Linked DNA regions of Homo sapiens: all the other regions are linked to region 2. The links come from fine-mapping of genetic effects on gene expression. A gene starts in region 2. Each other region holds a variant in brackets. All regions are shown on one strand. Distances are from middle to middle.

Region 1 (5,724 bases), 63 kb after region 2:
TCGTGATTTTCTTTTCCCCACTCAGATTCGTGCCCTTGAGATCCATCCAGGTTGATGCATGTGTCAATAGTTTAATTTTGGGTGGTAATCTCTGGTGTAAATATACCACAGTTTGTTCAATCATTCACTTATTGTAAAACATTTTGGTTGTTTCCATTCTGGTACTTGTGTGGCCATAGCCCTATTTCTCTGGGATAAATGCCCACAAGTGCATTGCTGGGCTGTATGGTCACTTTATGTTTAGTTTTTAAAGAAACTGCTCAACCATTATCCGGAGTGGCTCTATCATTTTATATTTTCACTAGTAATGGGTGAGAGATTCAGTTCCTTCACATCCTCTCAAGTATTCGATATGTTCACTATTTTTAATTTTTAGCTCTTCTAATAGGTGTGTAGGGATATATCATCATGGTCTTAATTTGCATTTTCCTAAAGACTAATGATGTCGAGGATCTTTTCATGTGCTTATTTGCCATTGTATAGCCTCTTCGATAAAATATCTCCTCATATCTCTTGCCTATTTTCTAATTAGATTATTTGGTTTTTTTTTAACTGTTGAGTTTCGAGAGTCTTTCTATATTCTGATACACATCCTTTGTCAGATACGTGGTCTGCAAATATTTTTTCCTAGGTGTAGCTTGTGTTTTTATCTTCTTAAGAGGGCCTTTTGTAGAGAAAAGTTTATTCATTTTGATGAATTCCAATTTATTGATTTCGATGTTGTGGGGACAAGAGAGGCTTTATTTTAAATGCTAATCCAGTGACTAACCACAAGTCCGGGAATGCCTCCAACATGTCTAGCTGATGTATTACTCTTTATGTGGAAACACCTAATGATTGTAAGTTTCCTCCAAAACAGCTCTTGATGCTGTTGCAGAAGTCATAGGCTGTGACACTCATAGCCAACTACACATTCCTTTCAGAGCACGTATACTTTTCCCCCAAGATGTAAGCCCCCTGCCTGGGGAGGTGTGGTGTAGAGATCTACCTGTCTTGTGGTGGCCCAAGACCAGACTTCTGTCTATAAGTTGCCCCTAATAAGCCACCTTATACTGACAAATGGGATTTGCCTGCCTCCTTCTTTGGTTTCTTGGCTTCTTTGGCATTTGAGGACTGCTTTGCATGTGCGGCCCTTTCATGGAACAGGTGTCATGTATAAGAACTCTTCACTAAGCCCTAGGTCCTGATGATTTTTATGTTTTCTTCTAAAAGTTTTATAGTTTTATGCTTTTTTTTTTTTTTTTTTTTTTTTTTTTGGTGAGACGGAGTCTCGCTCTGTCACCCAGGCTGGAGTGCAGTGGTGCGATCTTGGCTCACTGCAAGCTCCACCTCCCGGGTTCATGCCATTCTCCTGCCTCAGCCTCCCGAGTAGCTGGGACTACAGGTGCCCACCACCACGCCTGGCTAATGTTTTGTATTTTTTTTTTTAGTAGAGACCGGGTTTCACAGTGTTAGCCAGGATGGTTTCGATCTCCTGACCTCATGATCTGCCTGCCTCGGCCTCCTAAAGTGCTGGGATTACAGGCGTGAGCCACCGCGCCCAGCAGATATAATTCTTCTTTAGCCTATTGATATGATGAGTTACAGTGATTTATTTTTAATACTGAACAAGCCATTAATACCTGGAATAAGCCTCATCTGGTTATAATCTCTCTCTTTAATATGTTTATTATACATAATGTGTATATGTGTGTATTTTAGTATATTGCTGAATTCTATTAGTTAATATTTTGTTAAGGACATTTTCATCTGTATTCATTGGGGATATTGGACTATGGTTTTCTTTTTTGTACTTTGCCTTGTTTTGGTATTAGAGTAATATTGGCTACATAAAATGAATTAGGAAACATGCTTTCTTCTTCTATTTTCTGGAAGAGATTGTGTAGAACTGGTGTTAATTTTTCTTTAAACATTTGGTATAATTCGCCAGTGAAATCATCAGGGTTGAAGATTTCTTCTTTCATTTTAATAGTCTTAAAAATTTGAATTCAATTTTCCTTAGAGTGAAAGGGCTACTCAAATTATTCACTTCATATTGGGCAAATTGTGCTTGTTTGCGGTTGTTGAGGAATTTGTCAATTTCATTGAAGTTGTTAAATGTATGTGTGTAGCGTTGGTAGTATTATCTTATTCTTTTTTTAATGTCTTTGGGGTGTTCAGTGATAACAACAGATACCTGTTTCTTTCCTGAAATTCGTAACTTGTGTTTTCTTTCTTTTTTCTTTTGTCAGTCTTGCTAGAGGTTTGTCCATCTTATTGATCTTGTCAAGGAATCAACTTTTTGTTTTATTGCTTTTCTATATTGTTTTCTGTTTTTACTTTCATTGATTTCTGCTCTTATTATTTCCTGATTTCTGCTGAATTTGGGTTTATTTTGCTCTTCTTTTTCTAGTTTCTTGAGATGGGAGATTAGATTATTGATTTGAGTTTTTTCCTCATTTCTAATGTAAACATTTAGTTTCACAAATTCCCCCTTAACACTGTTTTAA[G/A]TGTGTCCCACACATTTTGGTACGTCGTATTTTCATTTTCATTTAGTTCACTGTATTTTTTTTAATTTCCCATGAGCCTCCTCTTTAACCCAAGGATTAAAGTGTATTGTTTTATTTCCAAGTGTTTGGAGATTTTCCTGTTACCTTTCTGTTATTTGTTCCATGTGGTCAGAAAACACAGTATGATTCAATTCTTCTACATTTGTTGAGGTGTATTTTATGGTCCAGGATATGGCCTATCTTGATATATGTTCCCTGGGTGCTTGAAAAGAATGTGGTTTCTGCTATTTTTGGGTGGAGTGTTCTATAAATGTCAGCTGGATTCTGTTGTTTGATGGTATTGTTGGTGTCTTCTATATCTTTGCTGATTTTCTGTCTGGTTGCTCTATCAATTGCTGAGAGAAAAATGAATTCTCCAACTACAATAATGCATTTGTCTATTTCTCTTTTCAATTTGATCAAGTTTGGCTTCACATATGTTGCAGCTCTGTTGTTTTGTGCATACACATTTAGGATTGCTATGCCTTCTTGGTGGATTGACCATTTTATCATTGTAGAATGGCCTTGGTAATTTTCTTTGCTCTGAAGTCGCGTTGTCTGACATCAATATAGCCACTCTCGCTTTCTTTTGATTTATGTTTGTGGTGTAAAACTGATCTTTTTAATTTTTAAATTTAAATTTAAATTTTTATTTAGAGACAGGGTCTCACTCTGTCACCCAAGCTAGAGTGCAGTGGCACAATCATAGCTCCCTGCAGCATCAAACTCCTGGGCTCAAGTGATCCTCCTGCCTCAGCCTCCCAAATGGCCAGGATTACAGGTGTGAGCCACCACGCCTAGCCATCTTTTAACTTTCAATTTACCTATATTGTTACATTTGAAATGAGTTCTGTGTAGATAGCATATAGTTGGGTCATGTTTTAAATCCTCTCTGTCAATCTCTGTATTTTAATTGGTATGCTTGGGTAAATTTATATTTAATGGAATTATTTATATGTTAGGAATTAAGTCAGCCATTAAATTTTTAAGTTTTCTATTGTTCTCTTTGTTTTTTCTTTCCTGCCTTTCTACGGGACACTTGAATGTTTTCATTCATTTTGATTTATCGATAGTGTTTGTGAGTGTATATCTCTTGTATACCCTTTTCAGTAGTTGTTCTAGATATATAGCTATCTATATTTATATCTGTCTATTCAAATATCTATCTATATTCGTATCTCTGTCTCTGTATGTATTCGATTGTGGTCAGAGAACACACTCTATGTGATTTCAAATCTTTCAAGTCACACTATCTATGAGTATTAACATTTAACTAGTTCAAGTGAAGTGTAAAACCTACCTTCCTAACATCGCATTACTTTCTTCCATTTCTAATATAATTGTCTTAAATATTTATATTTGTTGAGAACCACATCATACGGTGTTATAATTTTTGCTTTATTTATTTATTTATTTTTTGAGATAGAGTCTTGCCCTGTCACCCAGTCTGGGGTGCAATGGTGCGATCTCACGATCTCGGCTCACTGCAACCTTCGCCTCCCGGGTTCAAGTGATTCTTCTCCCTCAGCCTCCCGAGTAGCTGGGATTACAGGTGCATGCCACCATGCCCAGCTAATTTTTTATATCTTTAGTAGAAATGGGGTTTCACCATGTTGGCCAGGCTGGTCTCAAACTCCCGACCTCGTGGTCCGCCTGCCTTGGCCTCCCAAAATGCTGGGATTATAGGCATTAGTTACCACGCCCGGCCTTTTTTTTTTTTTTTTTGAGACGAAGTCTCACTCTTGTCGCCCAGGCTGGAGAGCAATGGTGCGATCTCGGCTCACTGCAACCTCTGCCTCCCGGGTTCAAGTGATTCTCCTGCCTCAGCCTCCCAGGTAGCTGGGATTACAGGTGTGCACCACTACGCCCAACTCATTTTTGTAATTTTAGTAGAGACGGGGTTTCACCATGTTGGCCAGGATGGTCTTGAAGTCCTGACCTCAGGTGATCCGCCCGCGTTGGCATCCCAAAGTACATTTTTTACTTTAACTGTCAAACATAATTTAGAAAAATCAAGAGGCTCATGCCTGTAATCCCAACACTGAGAGGCCGAGGCAGGAGGACTGCTTGAGCCTAAGAGTTCAAGACCAGTCTGGGTAATATAGTGAGACCCCATCACTGTATCTAAAGAAGAGGCCTGGCACGGTGGCTCATGCCTGTAATCCCAGCACTTTGGGAGGCCGAGGCAGGTGGATCATGAGGTCAAGAGATCGAGACCATGCTGGCCAACGTGGTGAAATCCCGACTCTACTAAAAATACAAAAATTAGCTGGGCCTGGTGGCGCGTGCCTGTAGTCCCAGCTACTTGGGAGGCTGAGGCAGGAGAATCGCTCGAACTCGGGAGGCCAAGATCACGCCATTGCACTTCAGCCTGGCGACAGGGCAAGACTCCATCTAAAAAAAAAAAAAAAAAAGAAAGGAAGAAAGAAAGAAAGAAAACTCAAGAGGATAAGGAAAGTCTGTTGTATTTATCCATATTTTTGTGCTTTTCATTGTTCTTTCTTCTTTACTGTTGTTCTAAGATCCTTCATTCAGCCAGGTGTGGTGGCTCACGCCTGTAATCCCAGCACTTTGGGAGGTCGAGGCTGGTGGATCATGAGGTCAGGAGTTCGAGCCCAGCCTTGCCAATATGGTGAAATCCCGTCTCTACTAAAAATACAAAAAATTTAGCCGGGCATGGTGGCGTGTGCCTGTAGTCCCAGCTACTCAGGAGGCTGAGACAGAAGAATCGCTTGAATCTGGGAGGCAGATGTTGCAGTGAGCTGAGATTGCACCACTGCACTCCAGCCTGGTGACAGAACGAGACTCTGTCTCAACAAAAAAAAAAAAAAAGAAAAAAGAAAAATTCCTTTGTTCATCATTTCCTTTCTGTTTAGACAACTTCTTTTTAGTCATTCCTAAATGGCAGGTGCTGACAACAAATTCTCCTGGTTCTCCTAATCTGAGAACATCTGGATTCCCGTCATTCTTGAATAATCTTTTTACTGGATATAGAATTCTGGGTTGAGAGTTCCTTTTTTTCTTTTCAGCACTAGAAAAGAAATGTGCCACTCTCTTCTGGACTTTAGGGTTTCTGATAAGAAATCTGACGTCTTTCCAATTATTTTTCTCCTGTAGGCAATGCGTCATTTCTCTCTGCTTTCAAGACTTTTTTTTTTTTTTTTGGCTTTAGTTTTTAGAAGTTTGGCCAAGATAT
Region 2 (5,724 bases):
TTTTTCTTCAATCATCATACTACAGAATGCTAAACTATGGGTTGGCAAATACTTTGATTAACAGAATGCTGAATAACAAGGCCAGGCTGTGTTTAGGTTCCTTTGTTGATATTAAAAATAGCTAAGTCACTCTTGCAAAATTAAACTTCCATGAAATTGCGATACTGTGCAAGCTTATTTCAGTGATAATTCCGGTTATGCTACTCTGTTTATCTAAGACTTCCCCTTACGGTTTGTTTTAAGGAGACTCCTAAAAAATGTCTTATGCAGTCAAGACAGGCAGTTTATAAATGTACTGGGTTACTTCAACATTAGTGACTTTAGTTAGTAAAGCTCTTGTTTTTTTTTTTCTGCTTCATTTTTCCTTCATAAAAGCCTTGTTTTAAATTAACTTATCTGAATTAAATTAATTGATATTAAGATTTTATTTAAATCATGCATTAAAACCAAAACATCCCCAATTGAAAAATCAACTTTCATTAATTTTTTTTTACTCTTACAAAAAAGAATTTGAACGTGGTAAGAATTTTACTAAGAATAATGTATCCTGAACTGACCATGGAAAATTTCCCCTTCAAATTAAAAGCAAATGTTTTAAACAGAGGGAATATACATAAACAGATGCTGTGGAAGACTGCTTAGTTTACATTTCATTTTCCACTGAAAACTACTAGGAATTAAAATACATGTGATTTTTAAAAATATTACAGAGAATCTTAAAGAAAACAGAACCCATACAATTATTCATATCATCCAATATAAGCGCCTCTTAATTTTTTAAAACCGCTATTTTGAATCCAAAGATCATAATAAAAATAGCTTTTTTTTCAGACGGAGTTTCGCTCTTGTTGCCCAGGCTGGAATGCAATGGCGCGATCTAGGCTCACTGCAACCTCCGCCTCCGGGAGTTCAAGCGATTCTCCTGCCTCAGCCTCCCGAGTAGCTGGAATTACAGGCGCTCGCCACCATGCCCGGCTAATTTTTTGTATTTTTTTAGTAGAGACAGGGTTTCACCATGTTGGCCAGGCTGGTCTCAAACTTCTGACCTCTGGTGATCCACCCACCTCGGCCCCCCAAAGTGCTGGGATTACAGGTGTGAGCCACCGCACCCGACCCATAATAAAAATACCTTGGAGGTGTGTTTCTTGTAAATGAGTGGCTAATTTCCCAACACCCTGTAAAAGTATATGGGTAAAAAGAAACTGAAAATCATCATGCAACCAGAGTTAACAACTATCTTGCAAAATTCATATCATTTGTTTTAAAACCAAAATAGCAAGGAAGAGCTGGTGTTATCCCAATAGCCTCTTTTTAATTGGTCTACAACAACTGCAACTCTTCATAACTTTACCAACACAACAAAGTCAGGCAGGCAGTCTGACAGAGTCAACGTTTGTGGGAACCTACAGCGCTTCCTTCTCTCTCTGGAGATGAGGACAATGAAAAAAGGTGTTCTGTTTTCCAGTAGTCCTGTAAGAGGAGCCATTGAGCTGGGCTGTACAACCAGACAACAGAACACAGGAAAATTCACATCAAAGCAAGGGCGCATGCCAGGGTAATATGCAATAAAACCCTCTGCCAAAGCATTAAGGGGAAAAAAAAGCAAGGAGGTAGAGAGAACCTGCTGGACTACCTTCTCATTAACACAGGGAGGCAGAAAGAAACAAAATCTGCCTGTATTCAGGAGCGGAGAAAACTGTGTCCTAGATATATTGGAGTATTCCTATAGACATGTTTATGAGCATTCGGACAAATTATCAATGAACTAAACCCAGAAAGCAGTGTCCTGTACGGTGGAGTATTCCTATGTAGACAGACATGAGAATCTTACCATTAACTAAGCCCAAAAAGGCAAAGTATTCTAGAAACACAGATATATGAGAATTTAGATGCACATTTCCAATGAATAAAACCCACTGGTTTTACAGTGAGAAAAAACTGTTTGAAATAACATCAGGTAAAGAATTGGGTAAAGGTGTGATGAAGTTATATCCCCTCCCCTTTTCCTCATACCCTTTTTGACAATCTCTGATTCTCTCATTTCATAGATGTCCCTTTCACTTGAATGCGCACACACACACACACACACACACACACACACACACACATCATTAGGTCTCCAGAAACAAAGGAGGGTCCTTAATTCTCCGGCCTGTGGAACCACACACGCCCCCTGCCCACAGATGGTGACTTTCATTAATGAGTAAGCCGAGGGAAGAGGTCTCCACCCCGACCACTGCCATGCACACTGTGACAACGGGGCACGAGACAAGCGCCACAAAGAAAGGGGAGGAGTGGACGGGGACCAGGAAAACACTGCCACGCCGCACCCCCCAAGGCGCGCGCCCACCGCCAACGCGGGGGCAGCGTCCTCGCCATCCTCCTCCTAGCCTCCCAGCTCATCCCAGCCGCCTCCCACGCCCGGGGACCCGATGCCAGGGCTTGGGCGAGCAGGACGTGCGGGGGCCCACGCACCTTCCCTCCGTGATCTCCAGGTGACAGCCCCGCTCCGCCCTTTGTGAGGGACTCACCCTCCAGTCCCGGGGCCGCGCCGGACCCTCCTCCGCGTCCCTCCTCAGCCTGGAGACACCGCCTCACCCCTGCACACCGCGCCCGGCCGGCCGAGGCGCCGGGAGAGTGTGTGTGTGTGGGAGGCTGGCGCGGGCCCGCGGTCTCCTCAGCATCCCGAACCCGGAGCGGCTCGGTCCCCCAAACCCCAGCCCGGGGGCGGCGGCCGCGGCGCTCCCGCCCTCGCTCGCTCACTTACTCGGGCGCGCCGGTGGCAGCGGCAGACGTGCGGGACCGTCAGCGCCCTGCGGCGGGCGGCAGGCTGCGGGCGGCGAGCGTCCGTCCGGACAGAGCGCGGCGGAGGTGGCGGCGGCTGACTGCGCCCGGCGGCCCCTCGCGAGGGGCGGGCCCGCCGGGGGAGGGGCGGGCGCCGCGCCTCTCATTCATGCAGCGGGGGCGGGGTGAGGGACCCGGATGCCCGGGCAGTTTCCCCACCCACCTCGGCGGAGGGCTCGGCGGCTTCAGAGTCTGCAGTGCGCAGGCGCGGCGCTCCCTGGCCAGGCCTGGTGCGGCCCTGGCCGCTGGCTCTGTTCCTGGTTAGAACTACGCCAGACAGGCCGGGCGAGGTGGCTCACGCCTGTAATCCCAGCACTTTGGGAGGCTGAGGCGGGCAGATCACGAGGTCAGGAGATCGAGACCATCTTGGCTAACGCGATGAAACCCCGTCTCTACTAAAAATACAAAAAATTAAATTAGCCGGGTGTGGTGGCGGGCGCCTGTAGTCCCAGCTACTTGGGAGGCTGAGGCAGGAGAATCGCCTGAACCTGGGAGGCGGAGCTTGCAGTGAGCCGAGATCGTGCCACTGCACACCAGCCTGGGCGACAGAGCGAGACTCTGTCTCAAAAAAAAAAAAAAAAAACAACTACTCCAGACAGACCTTCTCCATCGACCGTTTAGTATTTTTGCGTGCCCTACAAGCATTTTTAAAAGTGAAAGCATGGGGCCGGGCGCAGTGGCTCACGCCTGTAATCCCAACACTTTGGGAGGCCAAGGCGGGTGGATCACCTGAGGTCAGGAGTTCCAGACCAGCCTGACCAACATAGAGAAACTCTGTCTCTACTAAAAATACAAAATTAGCTGGGTGTGGTGGCTCATGCCTGTAATCCCAGCTACTCGGGAGGCTAAGGCAGGAAAATCTCTTGAACCCGGGGAGCGGAGGTTGCAGTGAGCCAAGATCGCACCATTGCACTCCAGCCTGGGTGACAGAGCAAGACTCCGTCTCACACACAAAAAAATGAAAGATTGGAATGCCACCCCTTTCCTAGCATGCAGATTGACAGTCCCCAGAGACACAAGAATGGTCACGTGGTGCCCATTGGTTTGATGGGGAGATGGTATGCACCGCACCCTCCTCCATCTGCCCCTCCTGCTGCAGCCTCTCAGCTGAGTGCTAGAACCTTGGTGATGGATGAGACCTAGACTCTGCCCAGATAGTGGAGAGAGGTGTGTGCAAGAAACAGTGCATTCCTTTATTTACATCCACTCCTCAACCTCCGGCTCCCATTCTACAGGGCAGGCAATAAATTGACCTCCGATTTTGGGAGGCTGAGCTCTTCCTGCAATACCAAGGCAAGGATCTGGGGAGTCCTCTCTTGTCTTTAGCAGGCAGTGTATTCTGCAGATACTCTCTTGTTCCCATCGCCTTGTGTCTGCCACTCCTGGGGTACGGAAGTTTCTGGAGAGGCTAGGAGCCTGCAGAGGGAATGGCTGTGAAGCTCCACAGCTGACTGTGTGTGCGCTGCAGCTCAGAGCTTGCAAAAATGATTGCCCCCTCTTCCTCAGTCTCCATGTGTCCCCCAGAAGTTCTCCTTCCTTCTCCTAATCTCTCAGGCCCCATCACATAAACCATAAACAGCTCAGTAGCTTAACTTTGGGAAGCAAAAGTCATCATGGCAAGCGCCTAGAGGCATGTTCCTTCTGCTTTGGCAAACCATTAACCACCAAGGCAGGGAGGAAGTAAAGAGGGAAACATTAGTGAATTTCTCAAGAAGTCACCTGCCACCCAATGGTCACAGTCCCCCAAAGTGAGAGAAGGGTGGAGGCATGTGCTAGGGAGACTGTGGCAAAAGGAAGGGAGTGGGAGACCCAGGCTTCCTCTAGAGCTGCCTGTGCCAGGGCTGTGCTGGGGGAACACTGCCCTCCTTGCTGTCAATCATAGCAGTTACCTGGAGGGTCTTTTCAACTTTGCTTTGCTCAAACCTCTCACTGTTCTAAATCAGCCCCCTCATCTCTCCCCTGGGCTGTTGCAGAAGTCTCAATCCATTCTCATGCAAATCGATTCTCATGGTATTCAAATCTGCCTGTGTTTCTGTCTTTTTCTTTTTCCCTGCCCCATCTGGCTCCTTGAGCCTTATTTTCCAGCCATTTACAGAACAGCACCATGGTGTTTCACCTCAGTAGTCACCAAGGTGACTGCTGTTTCCTGCTGTTCCCCTACTAGGAAAGCAATACTTACCTAGCATGCAAAAGTTGCTCTTTTCTCTGAAAATCCACAGATGCTTTTTAGGGCAGTGAAAATACTCTGTGTATGATACCATAATGGTGGATACCTGTCATGACACATTTGTCTAAATCCATAGAATGAATAATACCAGCAGCAAACTCTAATGTAAACATGGATTTTGGGTGATAATGATGTGCCAATGTAGGTCCAACAATAGTAATAAATGCTCCCGTGGGAGAATGTTTATAATGGGGGGGCTATGTATGTGTAGGGGGGAAGGGCTAGTTGGGAACTCTGCACATTCCTCTCACTTTTGTGGCAAACTTAAAACTGCTCTAAAAAAAAGTAAAGTATTTACAAAGTCATTTTTGATAAAGTATTTTTTTCTGCCCCCACTTATTGACAGACTTTCCTTGAGAATCCCCACCTGTGCCCTGTACCCACTTCCCTCTCAGCACTAGGCACCCTCCAAGGTCCCTGCTCATTTGCATATTTTCTTACCACACCAGCATGTGAGTCCTTCATCAGCAGGATCAGTATCTCCCAGGACCTAATATGTGACTGGCACATAGTGGGTCTGCTGTGGCTATTGGTGGAGGTGATGTTCCCTGGTGGGCTGGGGAGGCTCCACAGGAGAAGGAAAGGCTGAGCTCCTTTTCTTTCTTCTTCCTTATTTTGGCTTCCTTCCTCTGCCCTGCGTTTGGAAACCTGTT
Region 3 (5,724 bases), 79 kb before region 2:
GGCTCCACACAGACGTCGTGTCCAGCAACAGTCTGATCCTTGCGGTAAGCTATACAATGTTCTCTGCCCCAGGAAGGGGCCCCTGAGGGGGTCCACGGTCCTGCTTACTGTGCAACTGGGCCAGCTGTAGAACTGGCATGTTGCACAGGGGACACACTTTACGAACCTCCAGCCACTTAATAAGGCACCTGCAGAAGGAGACACCACAGGGGGAAGATGTCAGTCCTATGCTCATGGCACGGCTGTTCTGCTGAACATCTCCATATCTGTCACCCAGACAACGTCTGCTGTATGGTCCAAGGAGCTCCCCTCCTAGGTGGTGAACGGATGTCACCCCCTGGAGAGAGGGAAGAGACAGAGAGAAGGAGTGGGGAGAGGCCAAGGGGTCAGCAATCCCCTCTTCCTTCCAGAGCCTCCCATCTTCCACGTGTGAAGCCACAGATAGTATGTGATACTCTCAGTTACCCATGACTTCTTACAAGAACAAAATACACTGAGCAGGGATGTGAGAAGTAGGAAAATAAATTTTTCTAACAGAAATACAAAACAAAAAATTATAAGAGGAAGAATATTAATATGTCTGCAGGAAGTGGGAGGAGAGTGCCCCACACTACCATTTATATCCAGACTTTATTTTGATTTTAAATAACTATGGTTTTGATTTAAATAAGTTTTTAGGAGATGAGGCTCTCAGTGGAAAGTTCCAGCTAAATAGCTGTTTATTGCTTGGGCTCCAAGTGTAGGCTCATTTTGGCTCTCTGCCCATAGTCCTGACGTGGTGGTCACGTTCCACCACTCTGCTGTCTCCTAATGTCACGCACACACACACACATCCCACCTGTAGGGTGCTGTCAGCTTTCTGCATTACAGACCAATCATGAAGCCATCAAGCTTGTCTGGCACTGCCCTAAAACCCAAAAGAAGTTGGTTGATGTGCCTCAAACTCGGGTCCCATTAAGTAATTCCATACCAATACTTACTTTCTGTGGAAGGCGTGCTTACATGGGCAAATCCCCAACTCATCTCGAGGCTTGAAGTCTTCTAGGCACACTGCACAGAGCTGAAAGACAAATGCACAAATGAAGCCAAGTGTCTGTTAAGTACCCTCCCAGGTACAAAGTAGAGTGCAGGCTCCTAAAGGCTCAACCGTTTGAAGGGACTCATGAGACTCTTATCTTAAAAAAAAAAGAAATGAATGAATAAATGACTGAAAAGAAACAGGCCAAAATAGATGAATGTCTCCTGCTCTTCCTGTCCCATATCTTCAAGGAGGTGGGCAGATGGGAGAAGACAGAAAGCAAGAGGCAGCTGCCTTTACTTCAGTGCATCAGAAGTGTGGGACCGAGGGAGGGTTACTCTCACATCTGCCAGCTTAGCCTGCTGTCCCTTTCCTGGTGTGCCGAAAGAGCTGAGGCTCTCTGGGTTCTCCACCTTGTCAGCAGCACAGCCTGGCTCCCAAGCACTCACTGAAAGGGACCGCTCAAGCCCTGGCAATCTTTTCTCCTGTTTTTATGCACAGCTTGCAGTAACATGCTATTTATAGTTCCTGGGGCCTCCCACTTTGGCACTGTCCTTCTGTCAGTGTCTCTGTCATATAAAAAGTTACTGAAGACTCAGTTAACTCATGAACATGTGCAGATGGGACCAGGACTGCTCTCAGCCAATGACTAGTCTCCATGGCTTGGAGAGAGGCCTTTGCCATCGTACCCAGGGGCTGGGTTCCAACACTTTCCTGGGCATTCACCAGGGCCCGTGGATACCATGTGTCACCACACTGACCCATTTTACCGATGAGGAAACAGAAGCTCAGGAAAATAATGTTGCTTGAGGCCATTTAATTGGAGAGTGGCCAGGCCTGGCTGGGACCCAGGTCTGTTGCACTGATGTGCTGTTGTGCCATTGCTTTCTCCTGCCCAGTGGTTGAACTCCTTTCTCCCTACTTGCTTCCCTGTCCATTCCCAAGGATCCTGGTTCAGGCCATCACCATTTCTAGCCTGGACTGTTGATGGCTTTGCTGTTACTAGTTTCTTAACCTATAACACGTAACCCAGTCTTCTTAGATTATGTAACATGATCCAGGCAGGACATGTGGCTCTTGGTGCCCAGTGAACCGTGCCATGTTGGTTTTTAAACATCCTTGCTGAGGTAGCTTTCAGGGCCTTGTGTGTATGACAGACAGGACCTTCACAGGAGGAGAATGGATAACTGTGCTCTGTTGGACTCAGCATCCCTACCAAGATGGCAGGGGAGCAGGGAGGAGAGCAGGACAGGTGGCTGGCCTTGGCTCAGACACACTAGCTGTGTGGCCTCTGCCCTCAGGATTCCTCACAGAGCTCTGTTCCTTCATCTGTACAATAAGGACATGGCCTGTCCCACCCTACACACGGCTGTCATCAGCTCAGCTTGGGGGGTAGGGTTAAGGACACAGTAAGGCAGTCTACCAATGCCAGCTGTTTTTATTGATGTCTACATTTTATAATGGAAGTACTGTTTGCAAGCCCATTTTTGTCCTCTGAAGGGAGGCTGAGAACAAGCTGTGGGTAAAGGTAAAAAT[C/T]CAGCAGTTTCAGCCTAGTGGTATCTTTTTGGGCCTCAGCTTCCCACCTGTAAAGAGGGAATGATGCTCCCATCTCCTAGACTGTGTGATTGGCCCTCTGGCCTTCAACAGCCAGTTTTCCTCTCAGCCCCGCCTTCCGACACAGGGTCAGGACTGTCCTCTGGAGATTTAGCACTGATCCTGTTGAAGCACAGGTTGGATGAGTTGCTTATTTTTATTCACTTATTTTTCCAGGATCCAAAATTAGATTAGTAGCCTTTCCAAACAGGAGTTTCTTTTTTTCTTTTTGAGATGGAGTCTTGCTCTGTCGCCAGGCTGGAGTGCAGTGGTGCGATCTCAGCTCACCGCAACCTCCGCCTCCTGGGTTCAAGTGAGTCTCCTGCCTCAGACTCCCGAATAGCTGGGACTACAGGTGCATGCCAACCATACCCGGCTAATTTTTTATATTTTTAGTAGAGACAGGGTTTCACCATGTTGGCCAAGATGCTCTCGATCTCTTGACCTTGTGATCCGCCTGACTCAGCCTCCCAAAGTGTTGGGATTACAGGTGTGAGCCACTGCGCCCAGCCCCAAAATGGAGTTACTATTAATGGTATAATGTGCTATTATGTTCTGAATAAACAGATCCTAAAACTATAGCCACCTGAGAAAAAACAAGACAAACTCTGACACGTTAAATGCTAAAGGTGACCAAAGTCAATGGCAATCACAAAAAGAGAAAAGCCTCAGATGACTTCCTAGAAGCTCCCTAAGAGCCAAACTCATTTTACAACTTTCCTTTACAGTTCATATTTTGCAAATAAACTTTTGTTTCCAGTATTCAATGAGATTGTTTCTCCAGTGTGACTTCCCATCACCATTAAAAAACTGAGATACAATTAATCTACTATAATATTCACTCCTTTAAGTAACAGTACAATTCAGCAGTTTTTAGGTATATATGTGCAGCCATCTTTACAATCTAATTCCAGAACATTTGCATCAAATGCCACCCACCCACCCCCCAAAACAAGCCCATATTCATAGGCAGTCATTCCCCATTCTCCCCTTTCCCCAATCTCTGGCAACCAACCACTAATCTACTTTCTTTATTGATGGATTTGTCTACTCGGGACATTTCATATAAATGGAACCATACAATATGTAATATTTCATGTTTGGCTTCTTTCCCTTAGCATAATGTCTTCAAGGTTCATCTATATTGTAACATATATCAGTACTTCACTCATTTTCATGGCTGAATAATATTCCACTGTATGTATGTACCGCATTTTGTTTACCCATTTATCTATTGATGGCCACCTGGGTTGTTTCTACCTTTTGGCTATTGTGGACAATACTGCTATAAACACTGGTGTACAAGTATCTGGCTGAGTCCTTGTTTACGTTCTTTTGGGTATGTATCAAGGAGTGGAATTGCTGGGTCATATGGTAACTCTATGTTTACCTTTTTGAGGAGCTACCAAACCGATTTCCAAAGCGGCTGCACCATTTTACGTTCCTACCAGCAGTACGTATGGGTTGTAATTTCTCCATATCATCACCAATACTTATTCTTGTCTTTTTTACTATAGTTATCATAATGGGTGTAAATGGGTCATTTCCTTAATGACTAATGATGCCGTGCTTATTGACCACCACATATCTTCTTTGGAGAAATGCCTATTAAGTCCTTTGTCAATTTATTAGTTGGTTTCTTTTTATTATTAAGTGGTAAGAGTTCTTTATATATTTTAGACTGAACTCCCTTATCAGATAGCCAACTAATTTTGACAAAGGTGCAAAAAGCATTTCAATGGCAGAAGGAAAGCCTTTTCAACAAATGATGTTAGAGCACTACACATTCATAGACACAAAAGACACACGCAGCCTAAGCAGAAACACAACCTAAGCACAACCAAAGCACAACCTAAGCAAAGAAACCAAAGGAAAAAATGGATAAACTGGACTTGATCAAATTAAAAAACTTTTGTTCTACAAAAGACCCTGTTAGGATGAAAAGACTGGGAGAAAATATTTGCAGACCTTTTTATTTTGCAGGCTTCTTATTACTGAGTTCTAAGAGTTCTTTATACATCTTAAATACAAGACCCTTATCAGATATAAAACTTGTGAATACTTTGTCCCTGTGGGTTGCCTTCACTTTCAAGATAATGTCCTTTGAAGCACAAAAGTTTTTAATTTTTTTTTTGAGACAGTCTTGCTCTGTCACCCAGGCTGGAGTGCACTGGTGCCATCATAGCTCACTGCAGCCTCAATCTCCTGATCTCAAGCAATCCTCCAGCTCCTCAAGCCTCAACCTCCCAAATAGCTGGGACTTACAGGCACACATCACGACACCCAACTAATTTTTTTTTTTGTAAGTAGAGATAAGGTCTCCTAGCTATGTTGCCCAGGCTGGTCTCAAACTCCTGAGCTCAAGCAATCTTCTCGTCTTGGCCTCCCAACGTGTTGGGATTACAGGAGTGAGCCTCCATGGCTGGCCTGATGAAGTTTAACTATTTTTTCTTAGCTTGCTTGTGCTTTAGATGTCATATCTAAGAATCCATTACCCAATCCACAGCTATGAAGATTTATACATCTATGTTTATTTCTCCTTTTTGTTTTTTAGAGACAGAGTCTTGCTATGTTGCCCAGGCTGGTCTCAAATTCCTGGACTCAAGGGAGCTTCCCCCTCAGCCCCCTGAGGAGCTGGGATTACAGGCATGTGTCATGGCACTGGGCTCACCTATGTTTATGTCTGAGAGTTTTATAATATTAGCTGATACATTTAGGTCTTTGATTAACTTTTGAGTAATCTTTGTATATAGTATGAGGTAGATGTCTAAATTTATTCTTTTGCATGTAGATATCCAGTTGTCCCAGCACCACTGATTGAAAAGACTATTCTTTTCCCACTGAATTGTCTTGGCACCCTTGTTGAAAATCAACTGACCATAAATGTTTGAATTTATTTTTGGACTTGCAGTTCTATTCCACTGATCTATATAGCTATCAATATACCTGTGTCACATGTATTAAAAACTGTAGCTTTGTATAGTAAGTTTTGAAATTGGAAAGTGTGAGTTCTCTAACTCTGTTCTTCTTTTTCAAGATTCTTTTGGCTATTCTGGATCCTTTACATTTCCATGGGAATTTCAGAATTCATCTGCTTGTCAATTTGTGCATAA

What was found. PIP is the estimated chance that this variant, and not a neighbour inherited with it, causes the effect.
Region 1: its variant is the best candidate, but not a certain one, in a credible set for the expression of RNF24 in whole blood (INTERVAL, PIP 0.86).
Region 3: its variant is the best candidate, but not a certain one, in a credible set for the expression of RNF24 in whole blood (INTERVAL, PIP 0.81).

Annotation. Positions count from the first base shown.
Region 1 is chr20:4,076,021-4,081,744 of GRCh38, forward strand. No RefSeq gene overlaps it. Among named protein-coding and RNA genes, the nearest start is that of RNF24, 63 kb to the left of the region's middle. The variant G/A (reference allele first, on the strand shown) is at 2,490.
Region 2 is chr20:4,012,670-4,018,393 of GRCh38, forward strand. It overlaps RNF24 (ring finger protein 24), which reads right to left and starts at 2,889. Exons shown (of 6, transcript NM_001134337.3): 1 at 2,768-2,889. RefSeq lists a silencer at 2,396-2,995 and enhancers at 2,879-3,811, 4,015-4,616.
Region 3 is chr20:3,934,014-3,939,737 of GRCh38, forward strand. It overlaps RNF24 (ring finger protein 24), which reads right to left. Exons shown (of 6, transcript NM_001134337.3): 5 at 981-1,060; 6 at 1-188. The coding sequence ends at 50. Among named protein-coding and RNA genes, the nearest start is that of MIR103B2, 19 kb to the left of the region's middle. RefSeq lists an enhancer at 2,247-2,396. The variant C/T (reference allele first, on the strand shown) is at 2,555.